Linked DNA regions of Homo sapiens: regions 1 and 3 are each linked to region 2. Evidence: fine-mapped expression QTL. A gene starts in region 2. Each other region holds a variant in brackets. All regions are shown on one strand. Distances are between the middles of the regions.

Region 1 (5,327 bases), 130 kb before region 2:
TGACCTAAAGTCCTTTCAAAGAAAATGTTTTCATCCTTAAACAATAAAAATTGAAATAAACATATGAAGGGGAAACAACATAATGGAAGGAGTGAGAAAGTAGATAAATTAATCTATTTAATATACCTTCTTTAAGAATAGAAATTCAAGGGTTCAAAAAGCAATTTTAAACATTTTTTTTAAATGTATGAAAGCTAAAATGTGTTTTTGTACTGGATGGAGATTAAAGATAGATAAAGTTGATGCCCAGAGGACGACAGATTTCCACTATGCTTTGGGTCCTTGGTATTCAATATGTTTTCCACCCTCTGTCTTCTAAAACTTGCTCTTTGGATCCCAGGGTAACAAATGATGCCCGAGAAAATGAAATGGATGAAAACCTAGAGCAGGTGAGCGGCATCATCGGGAACCTCCGTCACATGGCCCTGGATATGGGCAATGAGATCGATACACAGAATCGCCAGATCGACAGGATCATGGAGAAGGTGAGCACGTGGCAGTCAGCAAGTCCCTACTGCGAGTCACTTCTGAAATGACCAACAGGAAGTGTGAAGGGCATAACAAGATCCTCAAAACACGACCTTGGATTCAGGCGCACTGATAGCTGGAAATGTTCTTCATTTTCCAAGAGAAAAATATAGGACTCAGCAACAGAATTGGAGTGAAAATAAGAGGGTCAAATTTAATCCAGCAAATATTCTCAAAGGCTCCTGTCAGCCAGGCATTGTGCTAGGCACTGTGGGCCATGTACACATGAGAAAGACACCACCCCTACTGCCAAGAAATTCACGGCCTATGGGAGGCTACGAGCCTCCAGATGAATTTTCTATCACTCAAAATATAATTCACTAAGAGATCCACAGATAAAATGCTAAACAAGGTTAGATAAGGAAAGATCTCAAGAGGCAAAGTTCGGGAAAATCTCAGAATAAGTTGACTTTGAATTGAATCTTGAAGGATGGTTAGTATTAATAGTTTGTCAAGTGGAGGTGGTGAAGGGATAGAATCAGAAAATGGGAGAAAGAATAGTCAGTATAGCCAGGACATGATTATGAGCTTTGCTTTTATAAATGCCAAAGCTTTAATGAGAATTCAAAAATATCCAGGTTCCATTTCCAGTTTAACAGTTCACATCCCCAGTTCTAAAAACAGGGAATTTTATATGATGAAATTGAGTTTACACAAGGACACCAGACTTGGCTCTAAGATCCACCATGTCAACGTGGGCCATAAGAAAGACTGGAGGGAGTAGACTGGGAAGGGGTGGGTTTGGGGGCTTAAAATTAGAAGAGATTGGAAAGAAACACTGGAACGTTCCTATAAAGAGACCTAGGGCACCAAAACCTGATATTCTACAACACAGAACTCCGACATAATTTATATTTCCATGTTTCATGCCCTTTCCTCAATCAGTAGGGTCTTGAATATTGATTACAAACTCTTATGTCCAAATGCTAAAAAGGAGAAAAAGAGACATTATAGATTTAACGATAATTGTACATCTATAATCTACTCAATGTGGGTAACTTATGTTGTGTGTTTATTCCCTGGGAGACGTTGAAGTTCTTTGTCTGATATCCTAAATTTTCTTATAATAATTCATTCCATTTTGGTGAGCAGAGAAGGATACTTTTAAGATTTTTAGAATCATAAATCTAAATAGTAGTTTCTTGGTATGCAAGCAACCTCCAATGACTTGAAAAAGGAGTAAGTAGGCATAAAGGGAACACTTTGTCCTGTTGTGTTGTACATACTCCATGTTAAAAATATCTGATTGCATATTTTGCCTGATCAGTATGAAAACTACGCAAACTTTAGTGTTGGTTGGCAAAATACTTGTGCTTTGCTTACTTTTGCAAGTAATGGCATGCTTATCGTTGTTAAGAAGGCTTTCATATGATAAAGCTTTTAAAGCTGTGTAAATCAATAGATATTAGAATAATAATGAGAGTTTCAAAACTCACTAGAGCCAACACAAGCTGACCTAACCCATTACGGCCCAGAATAATGAACTAAAAAATCATTGCTGAGCTGCCCTCCAACAGAAAAAACAATTTGAAAAAAACAGGAAGTATTCATTTTCTATTAATGGACCCACTTTACTTGCAGATGCAGCTAGATAATGCATCAAAGCCAATTAGGGTTCCAGAAGGAGCGTCTTTACTAATAGAAGGGTCAAACTCTTATTGACAGAGTTGAACTTTAAGCAAGAAAATGTGTTCCTGGAAAGGCAAGTGGCATCTTGATTCTGCCACTTTGAATTTCTAGTTCTCATCTTTAGGGAGAAGGTTTTTCTTCTACGCCCAGTGTACTATAAAGACAGAGACATATGCAGCTACAAGGTTTAATCAGAAGCCAGGCAGGTGGATGGATAATGACTATTTCAATTTGTATCATTCCTTGAGTGCAGAATCATTTAAGTGGGAGAAGGGTCTAATTGCCTTTGAATAA[C/T]TAGTTTCCAGTCAGCACTTTAAATAGCCCCTTTTTTTTCCAGAATCAAAATCCACACATGATTTAAATAGAGCCCACTTCAACCCAGCATTGCCCCAAATGATCATGTCGCATGAACTGCACAATTATTAATAGATTTCCACCTTCTCATTGAAGTTCTCATTTCTGATAACGGGACAGTATGTGGAAGTTTCCTGCATATCTAAGATGTAATTGCAATCACACTGTAGGGGTAAGGAGAGTCTTATGATGTTTCTCTCATAATCTCTCATGACCCCAACAGCAACCTTTACCCAGCTCTATCAATCATGATCTTTTCTCATCACTTGGATCAATAGTGAAGTTTTGGGAGTCCTTAACAATGAGATTTTCAATACATCCTCATGGATTGTCAAGAAATTACTTTATTTAAAAATCTCGTTTTCTGCTTAAGGGTATTTATGTATATAAATAATAACCTTATATATATAAATAAATAACTATATATATTATATAATATATAATATATATATTATATGTATATGGTTATTATATATATATAAAAACCATATATAAAAATAACCATATATAGATATACCTTCTAAGGTTAAAAACATAATTTTTTCAGAAAACTTACTGAATTGGAAGCAAGCCTATATCAGAGGGTTTATGGGAACTGTTGCTAAGGAAATACCTTAGCAATGTTCAAACTTTGATTTAAAGTTATCAGTGGTAAGTTAGGCATGCAGTCCCAGCTACTCCAGAGGCTGAGGCAGGAGAATTCCTTGAGCCCAGGAGTTCCAGGCTGCAGTGAGCTATGATCGTGCCACTGCACTCGCACTCCAGCCTGGGCAACAGAGCAAGATCCCATCTCTAATAAGTAAATATATAAATAAAAATAAAGTTGTCAGTGGTAGATGACAGGCACACGTTGGAATACAGTGAGGCTGATTCTTTAGCAGTCCTCACATTCTTCTATCAGTGAGAAAACACAGCATTTGAGAGCTAAGACTTTGAGTTCTAACAGGGTTTTGCCATTCACCAGCTCTGTGACCTGATTGCCTCACCTGAAGGATAGTAAGAGAACTGTTCAAACCTAGGATCAGAACAGGCTGGAAGTATGAACTGGGTTCTAAAAGTCACCTGGCATGGTCTGAAGTTGAAGAGATTCCCGGAGCGTTCAGAAGATGGGCTGAACAGCTCCTTCTAAACTTTTACTGGCTCTTTGGTGGTCATCCTGGCCTTCTCACAAGGACAAACATGTAACATATGTTGGGCACTCCAGCAAATTTAGAATTTTCTAAATAGAAATATAAAAATTGGAATGGGACAGCCATCATAAATAAAGTCCTACAGCATATAAGTAGGGTGATCATAGGGGCATTCTCCAAATACCAGGAAGACATCTACAAGGAGATTCCAGACTTTTTTTTTTTTTTAAAAGAAGCTAATTCTTTTATATAATAAAGGGGCAGTACTTTCTGTGTCAAATATTGCATGGGGTGGAATTTTCATATGCTTCAGAAGTAAGTTAGGTGGAAATCACAGATGCTCATTGAACATAAGTCTGTTTCAGCTCCTCCCAGATCCTTTAAGGATATACAGAGTAACCTCATGCTCTACTTCAAATATCCCCAGGTGAAGGCCCCTCAGTGCATTCTTGTACAGGAGATCCTAGAATGTTTGCGCTCAGGAATGCCATCATTTTAAAATGAATTATTTTTCTCATTTGAGCTTTTCAGAGCATTTAGTCTGGCAACATAATAATTCAATCTACAGGAACATTTCACATTGCTCTGATCCTGTAACTTTCCTTTGCACTGAAGTGTCATTATTTCTGATACCATTTGTAGCTGGAAAGGGAGGGCTTAAGAACCAAGTAAAATTGGTGAGATTATCCATTTTCCAATTGAGAAACCTGAGGTCAAAAATGTGAGTCTGTAGTTCAAAACAATCAAAATCAATGCCCTATCTTACTATGTAAATACTGATTTTAAAAGACAAGTGTCAATTATCCAAACAGATGACAGAGAACCATTGCCAGGTATTCAAAGTTATGATTAATCTGGAAATATGTTTGTTTTAACTTTGCAAATTTCTATTTGAACATGGATAATTCTAATGTCCTGAGAATTCACGATATGAACTGAATACAGAAGACTCAGCTCAATAAAAATTGGGAAGTACAGCACCACAATAGGTACAAAGCTGGTAATCATTGAGTGATACTGGTTGAGAGAAAAACAGTTTGGTTTCCCCACACTGCCTGGCAGCCTCCTCCTCTTCTTCCCAGGCTGTAGAAGGATAGACAGCATTACCAGTCAGGGAAGGACAAAAGAAAAGCCTCCATAGAATCGTTGTCTTCACCTCTGGTTGCTGATGCATTTTTCTCAGTGGTGATGGGAATCATTCATTTTCTGGAATTTAAAGATTTATGCTGGTAGCAGCCCTAGGTTTCATGCTGCATATACAGCAAACATAACCCAAGCAGTAAAGAGATCAACCAAGAGATTAAAGCCAGCCAGTTACAAAATCATAGTAAATGTGCATCTGTTAAAGAAAAGACAGTTATTAAACTCATAGAAATGAATCTTCAGAAATGCAACTTAAAAACTATTAAGCATCCCAGAAGCAAGCCAAGTTCTCATACGGTAACAATAATTGCAAGATAAACTAATGAGCCCTTCGTTTTGCAAAACATTATTCCAAGCACATTATGTGTATAAACTCATTTGATCTCAGCAAATTGAATAGTAAGTGATGAATAGTGTGGACTCTGACTCCAGGTTGCTAGCATTCAGACTCTGGTTTCTCCATTTATTAGTACTAAGACTTCAGACAAATTCCCCAGATCGTTTCTGACTGCTTTTCTCATTTGGAAAAGTGAGCTAATAATA
Region 2 (5,327 bases):
TTTCAAAATCATAGTTCTCATTTTTTCCTCTATCCTCCTCTGAATTAGTCTCAATCCATTTTTACTTACTCCATCTTTAGTTACGGCAGGGAGTCAAGATCTAGAAAAACTAGTCACTGCCACCCACGATAACAGAAGGTAGCAGCCACTTGTCTTCTCTGCTATATTCCTAGTGCGTAGCAGAAAAGTAGAGAATCTTGTCCCCTTTGGTCCACAGAGGATGGCTTATTCTTCTGCTTCAGCTCTTAGTTCAGATGTCACCTACTCAGAGAGCCTTTCTCTCAGCACTCAACCTAAAGTGTTTTCCCTCTCCCTCCCCATTATTCTCTAGCACGTGATTCCTTCAAAGCCCTACCTTTGTGATGAATGCTGTGATGTGCCACCCTGACCCCCCTAAGGAATGAAAGGCTTATTTCCCCAGCTCCTGGAAGAGCTGAGACAGACCTCGGCTGCCAGCCTCCGTCCATGATTGACTTGGCTGAAGAGAGTTGAAGTTAGGCCCTTTCCAGGGAAACAGACATCTAACGACAGATCAATCAAGGGGTATAAAAGCCTGGCCCTTCTCTTCAACTTTGAAGGGCCAACCCAGCACTAGAGTTCCTGTGGGACTGGTGGAGAACATCCTTGAGACTTCACTGCAGCTTAACTTTTTCTATTGCCCAATCCTGCTTCCTTTCTTCCTTGGTAATCATCCAAAAAGTCTTCTCTAGTAAATGTCCTGCCTCTAAATCTCCTCAGAGTCTGATTCTCAGGAAACCCAACCTAGGACAATCTAGAAACATCTTGCTCAATATCAATGTGCAATCACCCCTCAGTATTTGGGGGATTGCATCCAGGACCCATGATGGATACCCAAATCCAGATGCTCAGGTCCCTGATTTAAAAATTGTGTAGTAGGCCAGACGCCGTGGGTCATGCCTGTAATCCCAGCACTTTGGGATGCCGAGGCGGGTGGATCACCTGAGGTCAGGAGTTCAAGACCAGCCTGGCCAACATGGCGAAACACCATCTCTACTAAAAAATACAAAAATTAGCCAGGTGCAGTGGCGGGTGCCTGTAATCCCAAACTTCTCCGGAGGCTAAGGCAGGGAGAATTGCTTGAACCCGGGAGGCGGAGGTTGCACAGTGAGCAGAGATCCAGCTTCAGCCTGCGCGACAGAGCGAGACTCTTTGTCAAAAAAAAAAAAAAAAAAAAAAAAAATCGTGTAGTTTTGTACACAACTTGCCACCTCCTTCCATGTACCTTAAATAATCTCTAGGCTACTTATAATACCTAATACAACGTTAAATGCTATGTAAGTAGTTGTTACACTGCAGTGTTTAGGGAATGACAAGAAAAAAGGTCTGCACGTGTTCAGTACAGATGTAACCATCTTTTTTCCCCCAGAATGTTTTTATTTATTTATTTTCTTAAATAGAGTCTCTGTCGCCCAACCTGGAGTGCAGTGGCGTGATCTCCGCTCACCGCAACCTCCGCCTCCAGGGCTCAAGCGATTCTCCTGCCTCAACCTCCCAAGTAGCTGGGATTACAGGCGTGCGCCACTGCGCCCGGCTCATTTTTTTGTACTTTTAGCAGAGACCGGGTTTCGCCACGTTGGCCTGGCTGGCCCCAAACTCCTGACTCAAGTGATCCGCCCGCCTCGGGCTCCTAAAGTGCGGGGTTACAGGGGTGAGCCACCAAACCCCGCCGCCCCAAAATATTTTCTATCCGCAGTTGGTTGAATTCACACATGCGGAACTCATGGATAGGGAGCGTATTGTTTCTCCCCCATCACTAGAACATGGAGTCAGGACCGTGCAAGTCCCTCTTGGTCACTGCCGTATCTACTAACTCGGCAGTGCTGTAGACACGTGTATATCTGTTTATGGATAAACTGAAGATGTTAATGAATGAATGAAACCGTCATATTGAGTCTCTGAAACGGCAACAGGATTTGGGTATGGTCTTATCGGGGAGGAAGACGAGCATGACCTTAGAGGGTCATCCCTACAAGGTCCACAGCCCTGCAAGCCCCGCGGCTGCTTTCACGTAGCTGGCAGGGCCACGCTGCACAACGTCTCTAACGCCGTCGGAGGGCGGCCCCCACCTCCCGACAGCCTGGGGTACACCGTGCACCCTCCAGACAGTCAGGGGCACACGGGGCCCCTCCCAGCGAGGGAGGGGACGGGGAGTCACAGGTTCGGCGTAGAAGGCGGCAGCGCAGGTGGGAGCGTGGTGAGGCGCCACTCCTCCAGCTCTCCCCACCGGCGGGAAGACCTCCTCGCCGCCCGCATCCGTGCCGACCGCAACATTTACCATCGGCAGCTATTTCAGAGGTCGGTCTTTCGCCTCCTACAGAGAGCCAGCCTCCTCCTTGTCCCCGCCCTCAAATATCCTTCAGTGAGGACACCGGTGACCTTTGGGGGTGGAGAGGGAGGCGCCTACAAGCCCCTTCCCCTCTCTTCGGCCGGACACAAAGCGGGCTTTTCCACCTAGAGTCCCAGCGCTCTCACCTGCGCACCAGCCGTCGCGCCGCCCCAGGCCGCCACCGCCAGAGGCCCCAGAAACAGATCTCAAGCAGCCGCTGCTGCCGCGGATCCCGACAACCTTCGCGTCGCGCGAGGGCACGGAGCACGCGCAGCTCTGCGGTCGACGCCGGGCCGCCCCCACTCCGCTTCTCCGGGTTTTCCGTGAAGCTCCAGCCAACAGCGGCCGTCACCGGAAAAAACGGGGAGCGAAGTTTATTCAGCGTATATTCCAGCAAATTGTTGAAACTGAAATTTTAAAAGAACGCATAAAATTTAAATAACATATCAAAATGGCACAGCTTCTGCCTTTTGGTGAGCGCTTGACAATGATTTATTGAATGAAAGAAAGAAATAGTCCACTGCGCTCTGCTCTCTGTCCTGACATGACCAATTACAAAGCGCTTGGATTTGTCGCTCAGCGCCAGTATCCCGCCTCTCTGTGCGGTTGTCTGGAAAATCAGGATTTTTACTCTCCCGTAACTCCCGGGATCGGGTTTGGAAAACGGACATGCGCCGTGAGAGCTAGTTGCCTTCTACTAAAGCATCCGCCCTCAGTCCTTCCTGAGGGCTTACAGGGAAGTGCGGAGTTTCGCAGCTCGTACTCTTCACAGATTAGATAATTCACCCGGCATTTCCCCATCCTGCTTCTGGGTTCCAGGACAAAACTTTTATTCTCTTTTAACATTAAAAAACATATAGGAAGTTATGTTCAAACATGGCTATTTTTATTAAAATTTATCCGGCACTGTGAAAGCTACCTTTCCTTTCTCACAATCTTTCGCACCGAATATATGTTCCATTCTTGAGCTAGTCATTTTCCAATGTTAAGAAAACACACCACAGAAAAGCGTTTTTTTTTCTCTCGGTCAGTTCAACTGCCTAGCACCGTGAGTTACCATGATACGTTATTTGCTAATGAGAGTCATTGGGGTCCCAGCCTTTAAAAATAGCCTGCGTCCGGCGCCATTTTTGTTTTGGGCCCACTTTGAAAGCCGCGATATTCTGAACAGAGGCCATTTTTCTTTTGGGCAGATTCCACGGGCCATCGAAGTGTTTCGCTGCCATCTTAAATCCTGGCTGTGGCCTCAATCCTGCAGCGAAGCTGCCCAGATCATTTTGTGTTTGGGCGGCGGCTGAGTTCCCAAACGCGCGCGGAGACCCTGGGAAGGAGGAAGTAAGCGCGAAAGTGCTTCCCTTAAGCTTCTGAAGGTTGGCTGCAGTTCCGGCTACCTGTGTAGTCCGAGTTTCCACAGCCAGGTACTACTCCGCCAGTGACCCTGGACAGTAACAAAACATATAAAGCCCGAGCCCAAACCCCGCCACCATCATAGGTAAGCACATGGACCTCTGACAACCTCAGATGTTCCTTCAAGTGAACTGAACTGTTTGCCCATCTCCTCCCTCCTGGTTTTTGGCTTTGATTTTTTGAGACTTTTCCGAATCCTTCTCCCTGTACTTCCACCTTTCTTCATTGTTTTCAAAAAGCCAAAAAGTTGCTAAACATCAGGATGCCATGAGCATGGGCATTACGGTGGAGATATTATTCAGGAAAGTTAACTGTCTTTGCACAAAGGGAATGCAGTAGATGGGCCAGGTATTTGTATCAAATCATGGCTACCTGCATCCAGCAGTACAAATACCTCCCCCTTCCCAGACATTTTTGGAGATGTGAGGTAAATACAGATTGCGTTTGTATATACTTCCCATTCATTCATTTATTCATTGCATTTCTTGAGTACCTAATTTGTGCTAGGCCATAAGGATTCAGGAGTTAGCTAAAAAAAATCCATTAACTCATGGAGCCTACATTTTATCACCTTGACATCTACTAGGTTGAGACAAATAACAGTATTTTATGGTTCTTAGCACTGCTAGACTGTATAAACAAGTATTTGCTTTCTCCTTCCCCTGAACTATTTTTTTTTATTTTTAGTTTTTAATTTTTTTGGCCGGGTGTAGGAATTAATGGTATTGACACTTACTTCTTGGATCCTAGACATAACGATATTTGTAAGCCAGTTGGCTAGCGTTAAAACTAATATTCCAGTTACTTAGGGCCTTGTTGCTCCAAGTTCATTTCACCTACCACCAGCATCAGCATCCCTGGGAGCTTGTTAGAATTACACTTCATGACTCTCACCCCAGAGCTGCTGAATCAGAATCTTCCTCAAGAAGTGTACCTTAAAGTTCAAGGAACATTGATTCAGGGCATGGGCTAAAGATACAGCCCTTTCTTTCTTTCTTTTTTTTTTTAGATGGAGTCTCGCTCTGTTGCCCAGGTTGGAGTGCAGTGGCGCGATCTTGGCTCACTGCCATCTCCGCCCCCCGGGTTCAAGCAATTCTCCTGCCTCAGCGTTCCCAGTAGCTGGGATTACAGGCGCGCGCCACCACCCCCGGCTAATTTTTGTATTTTTAGTAGAGACAGGGTTCGCCATGTTGGCCGGGTTGTTCTCGAACTCCTGACCTCAGGTGATCCACCCGCCTTGGCCTCCAAAGTCCTGGGATCACAGGCCTGAGACATCACGCCCGGCCTGGCCCATTCTTTGTTCAACCCGTGCTTCTTAACTAGATTCACAGTGTATTATCAATTTATTGCATGTTCTAAATGCAATGGATATTTGACAGGTTTTTTTCTGTGCTTTTAGTTCATTGACTTGATGTTAGGGCGTCAATTTAGCTTTCCAAAAAGTTGAAAAGAGATTTTGTCATCCCAATATACTTATATGTAATTTCTGTTATAACATCTGAAATGTAGGGTTTTCTCTGTAAGTCTTAGCATCCAATTTACCACTGGTTTGCGTTTTTTTTTTAAAAGTTGT
Region 3 (5,327 bases), 44 kb before region 2:
AGCACTGTATTGTGAAAACTGCTGAAAATGTGGCAGCAATTTGGTGTTTTTATTTTGGAGACGGCTAATGGTGGGAATGTTAATGTAAATAGTGGTGGTAGTGTAAAATCAATTCATTTATCATTCATGCAAAAAAAAGTATTGAGTGCCTGTTAATTGTCACTGTAGATATAAAACCAATGAGCTGTAACCCCTTCACTCAAGGCATTGACAGCTTAGCTGTGGGGGTGGACACACATATGTGTATTTACAGCGCAGTGTAAATAGTTCTCTAGTAGAGGTAGCTCCATATTTCTATGAGGTCACTCAGGCCTTTTGGACTAACTCTGTGGGGATAGGAGTTATATATTCTTATAAAACAAAAGAAAACAGGACAATGTTATAAGAGTAAGAGGTTCTTACTTGTACATAGGCTTACCTGCTGAAAACAGGCCCTTGTTGTACAGATTTTGGGTACATAATTTAACTCTTTTAGTCAATACAAAAGATTTAAGTGACCCCCTCTTTTTTCTTTTTTTGAATGCCATGTAAAGGATTTTTGGTTAAGACCTCACTTTTAAAACTGCCTTAAGTATAAATAGTACCTTTGGAATGTATTTAGTTCATCATTTGAGCAGCCTTCATACTGGTTTCCTCAGCCTTCCTTCAGCCTGTAATATTTTCAGCCCACTGTTTACCTTGTCTCAATAAAAGCTTTCTAATGCAAATTGGAAAAAAAAAAAGAAAGAAAAAGAAAAAAAAGAAAAAGAAAAACTTGTGAAAGAATTTAGCCAGTTTGCTTTAGGCAGACAGTAAGGGAAGGGTCCCCGGAGAATCTGCCACTGGCTCCACAGCATGAGATGCTTTGTGCAGATAAGGGAACTTGCAAAGGGGGATTGCCTAAACATGTCCACGTGGAAAATTCCATTCCGTAACATATGCACAGCAAGGGATATAAATTAATATGGAGTGGCTCAGACCAAGGGCCCACAGGCACACTGGAAGGATGGGGTGGAGCCACCAGAAATTCGTGCCTTACACCCTTGTATTCAACTGTGAAGGGGGCAACTGGCAACTTGCTTTCAGGACCCTTCTCTTTGCTGTGAGCTTTCCTTTTCCTTAATAAATTCTACTCCACTCACTCTCTGGTGTCCACATGCCTAATTCTTCCTGACCATGAGACAGTAACCCGGACTTAGCTGAGTTAAGGAGCAAAAATCCTGCATCACTTGGAAAATCACAAAAGAAAATAAAAGAAGCTCTAACTAGCCCTCTTGCTATTCAGATTGTACTGGTAGTCCTAGCCAATGCAATGAGGTCCAAAAAGAGAGGAAGAGACTGGGTGGGTGTGGCAGCTCATGCCTGTAATCCCTGCACTTTGTGAGGCCAAGGTGGGAGGATTGCTTGAACCCAAGAGTTTAAGGCCACAGTGAACCACAATTGCATCACTGCACTGCACCCAAGGTGATGGGGCAAGACCCCCATCTCTAAAAACCAGATTCCATTTACAATAATAAAAAACTTATAAAATATCCGGGAATAAACTCAACAAAGGAAACATTCAAAATATATAATGAAATAAACAAAAAACTACAAAAATATTAAATAACTAAATAAAATTCAAGTAAAGAAGACAGACACCCTTTTTCAGGATGAAAAGCCTAAATGTTATACAGGTATCAATTTACAAATAATGCAATTCCAATTAAAATCTTAAAGGATTTTCATGGAACTTGTCAAGCTGACTCTAAAATTTATCTGAATCCCCGGAACCAAGAACAGTGCCCAGCACATAGTGGGAGTGTGATAAACATGCTGATTGAATGAATTAGTGAATGAACAGCTTCAATACCATCATGTTAGTCCATTTGTGTTGCTATAAAGGAACACCTGAGGATGGATAATTTATAAAGAAAAAAGAAGACCAGGCGCAGTGGCTCATGCGTGTAATCCCAGCACTTTTGGAGGCTAAGGTGGGCAGATCATCTGAGGTCAGGAGGTCGAGACCAGCCTGACCAACATGGTGAAACCCCGTCTCTACTATAGTAAATGCAAAACTAGCTGGGCTTGGTGGCACATGCCTGTAACCCCAGCTACTCAGGAGGCTGAGGCAGGAGAATCGCTTGAACCTGGGAGGCGAAAGTTGCAGTGAGCTGAGATCACACCATTGCACTCCAGCCTGGGCAACAAGAGCAAAACTCCATCTCAAGAAAAAAAAAAAAAGAAAAAAGAAAAAAGAAAAAGGGTTTAGGCTGGGTG[C/T]GGTGGCTCACGCCTGTAATCCCAGCACTTTGGGAGGCCAAGGTGGGCGGATCACAAGGTCCAGAGATCGAGACCATCCTGGCCAACATGGTGAAACCCCATCTCTACTAAAAAAGATACAAAAATTAGATGGCCGTGGTTGCCCACGCCTGTAGTCCCAGCTACTCGGGAGACCGAGGCAGGATAATTGCTTGAACCTGGGAGGTGGAGGTTGCAGTGAGCCAAGATTGCGTCACTGCACTCCAGCCTGGTGACAGAGTGAGACTCCTTCTAAAACAAAAAAAAAAAAAATAAAGAAAGAAAAGAAAAAAGGTTTATTTGGTTCACAGTTCTGTACAAGGAGCATGGCGCCAGCATCTGCTCCTGGTGAGAGACTCAGGCTGCTTCTACTCATGGCAGAAGGCAAAGGGAAGCTGGCCTGTTCAGGAATCACGTGGTGAGAGTAGAGGCAAACAGGGGGTGTCAGGCTCTTTTTAACAACTCGCTCTTGCAGGAACTAATAGAGCAAGAACTCACTCATTACTTAGAAGACAGCACCAAACCATTCATGAGGGATGCACCCGCATGTGACCCAAGACCTCCCACTAGCTCCACCTCCAATATTGGGGGTCAAATTTCAGCACAAGATTTGGAGGGTCAAACATCCAAACTAAGCAACCTAGATGAAACTGACTCATATTTATATTTCTAGGCCAGATTTATCTTCTGAACTCCAGATCAGTAGATCTGTCTTAGTAATCTCTTCACTTGATTAGTAAGAAACCAATTCAGACTCATTGTGTTCAAAACAAAACTACTATCCCTCTTGCAAACCCTGTGCTCTTCCAGTCATCAAATTGAGTTAAGGTTAAAAACAGAGAGTTAACTCTAATCATCTAATTGGCCATTCGTTTTGTTTGTTTGTTTGTTGTTTTTGTTTTGGGACAGGGTCTTGCTCTGTCCCAGGCTGCAGTGCAGTAGTGCCATCTTGGGTTACTGCAACTTCCAGCTTCCAGTCAGGTGGTCCTCCAGCCTCCCAAGTAGCTGGGACCACAGGCTCACACCACCACACCCAGCTATTTTTTGTATTTTTAGTAGAGACGGGGTCTCGCCATGTTGCCCAGGCTGGTCTTGAACTCCTGCACTCAAGCCATCTGCCCGTCTCAGCTTCCCAAAGTGCTCGGATTATAGACATGAGCTACTGTGCCTTGCCAATTGTCCATTTGTGATTATTGAAGTCATCACAACTACTCCTGGATGCATCTGCTAAATGTTTCTTGAATCTATCTGTGTCTCTCATGTATACTGACACCACCATGTGCCATAATTCCTTCACTATTCTAATGAATAACTTCCTAACCAATCTCTCCTCCTCAAACTCACTATTTCCCCCCTACTGCCCTCCTGCCTCAACTTAAAACAATGTCAGAACTGCAGGCTAGGTGTGGTGGCTCACACCTGTAATCTTCCTCGGGAAGCTGAGGCAGGAGGATCACTTGAGCTCAGGAGTTCAAGACCAGCCTGGACAACATAGTGAGACACCATCTCTACAAAAAAAAATTTTTTAAAGAATTTCCATTGATTTTAGATTAATTCCAAACCCTTCATCATCACAAGTTTGGCCTGGCCTGGCTGCAACCTGTATCTTCAGAGACATCTTCCACAGTATTTGCTCTCGCTCTCTACTCTAAGCTTTGGCCACAGTGACCTTCTTCCAATTCTTCACATATGTTTCTTCCTACAACAGTGCCTTTGTATATGCTGTTCTTTCTGTCTGGAATAATCTCATTTTTCTCTGATTCTAATTAATTCTAACGACGCTTGATATCTAAAAGATCTCTCTTATTCCTATTACGTCTTCTTAAAAAACAGATTATCAGGCCAGGCATGGTGGCACATGCCTGTAATCCCAGCTCTTTGATAGGTCAAAGTGGGCAGATCACTTGTGGCTGGGAGTTCGAGACCAGCCTGGGCAATATGGCAAGACCCAGCCTCTACTAAAAATAAAAAAATTAACCAGGTGTGGTGGCACACACTTGTAATCCCAGCCACTCGAGAGGCCAAGGCATGAGAATCACTTGAACCCAGGAGCTAAGATTGCACTACTGCATTCTAGCCTGGGTAGCAGAGTAAGACTGTCTTAAAAAAAAAAAAAAGAGAAAAAAAAGAAACAAAGCAAAATAACAGATTGATTATCTCTTAATAGTTTAGTTGTAAGTGTACCTTTATGTGGGTGAATTTTAGCCTTTATGTGGGTGAATTTTAGACATTAAGCTCAATCAGAACAGGAACTATGTCTTTTCTTTTTTTTTTTTTTTTTTTTTTTTGAGATGGAGTGTCGCTCTGTCGCCCAGGCTGGAGTGCAGTGGCACGATCTCGGCTCACTGCAACCTCTGCCTCCCAGGTTCACGCCATTCTTCTGCCTCAGCCTCCTGAGTAGCTGGGACTACAGGCGCCCGCCACCAAGCCCAGCTAATTTTTTTGTATTTTTAGTAGAGACGGGGTTTCACCATGTTAGCCAGGATGGTCTTGATCTCCTGACCTTGTGATCTGCCCACCTCAGCCTCCCAAAGTGCTGGGATTACAGGCGTGAGCCACTGCGCCCGGCCAGGAACTATGTCTTTTCATACTTACTATGGTATCCCTAGCTATGACACTAGGAGCTCAACAAATGAATGGAAGAATTGAAACTGAACAGGAAAAATATATGCACAATGACTTGACATGGTAACCAATAAAGGTCTTCATCGAATGAATAAGGAGAAATTTTTTTTTTTTTTTTTGAGACAGGGTCACACTCTGTAGGCCAGGCTAGAGTACAGTGGTGCAATCCTGGCTCACTGCAACCTCTGTGAATGAGGAGAAACATAATCTGGTTCTAAGAAAGTAAGAATCATAGGACCAAAAAACCTGCAAATGTACCATATTTAATTTCATATTTTAAAACTATTTCCAAAGCACAATCCTAGTGTTTACATCAGAGCATTCATTACAATGAAAATAAAACCAGAAAGCATTCAAATATGAGAAGACAGATTCATCTCTGAGGATTATCAGGAATTAATTTATAGTAGAAAATGACAAAGCTATTTCTTACGATGCTCAATAAA

Which allele goes with the higher level. Positions count from the first base shown, and alleles are read on the strand shown. Sizes are in standard deviations (SD) of each study's normalised expression. Not every link is listed here.
With allele C in place of T in region 3, the expression in visceral fat of the gene that starts at base 2,608 in region 2 is lower (moderate effect, 0.61 SD a copy in GTEx).

Evidence for each region. PIP is the estimated chance that this variant, and not a neighbour inherited with it, causes the effect. A credible set is the group of variants that fine-mapping cannot tell apart.
Region 1: its variant is the best candidate, but not a certain one, in a credible set for the expression of MKKS in tibial artery (GTEx, PIP 0.82).
Region 3: its variant is the best candidate, but not a certain one, in a credible set for the expression of MKKS in visceral fat (GTEx, PIP 0.88).

The regions. Positions count from the first base shown.
Region 1 is chr20:10,298,928-10,304,254 of GRCh38, forward strand. SNAP25 (synaptosome associated protein 25) reads left to right here. Exons shown (of 8, transcript NM_130811.4): 7 at 341-485. Among named protein-coding and RNA genes, the nearest start is that of SNAP25-AS1, 82 kb to the left of the region's middle. RefSeq lists an enhancer at 1,569-2,486. The variant C/T (reference allele first, on the strand shown) is at 2,452.
Region 2 is chr20:10,431,615-10,436,941 of GRCh38, forward strand. MKKS (MKKS centrosomal shuttling protein) reads right to left here and starts at 2,608. Exons shown (of 6, transcript NM_170784.3): 1 at 2,494-2,608. SLX4IP (SLX4 interacting protein) reads left to right here and starts at 3,691. Exons shown (of 8, transcript NM_001009608.3): 1 at 3,691-3,839. It overlaps LOC128706665, which reads right to left and starts at 2,608. Exons shown (of 3, transcript NM_001394148.2): 1 at 2,494-2,608. LOC128706666 reads right to left here and starts at 2,608. Exons shown (of 3, transcript NM_001394149.2): 1 at 2,494-2,608. RefSeq lists enhancers at 3-504, 2,455-2,514, 3,405-3,634, 3,795-3,844.
Region 3 is chr20:10,387,919-10,393,245 of GRCh38, forward strand. It overlaps the pseudogene SDAD1P2. Among named protein-coding and RNA genes, the nearest start is that of MKKS, 44 kb to the right of the region's middle. The variant C/T (reference allele first, on the strand shown) is at 2,239.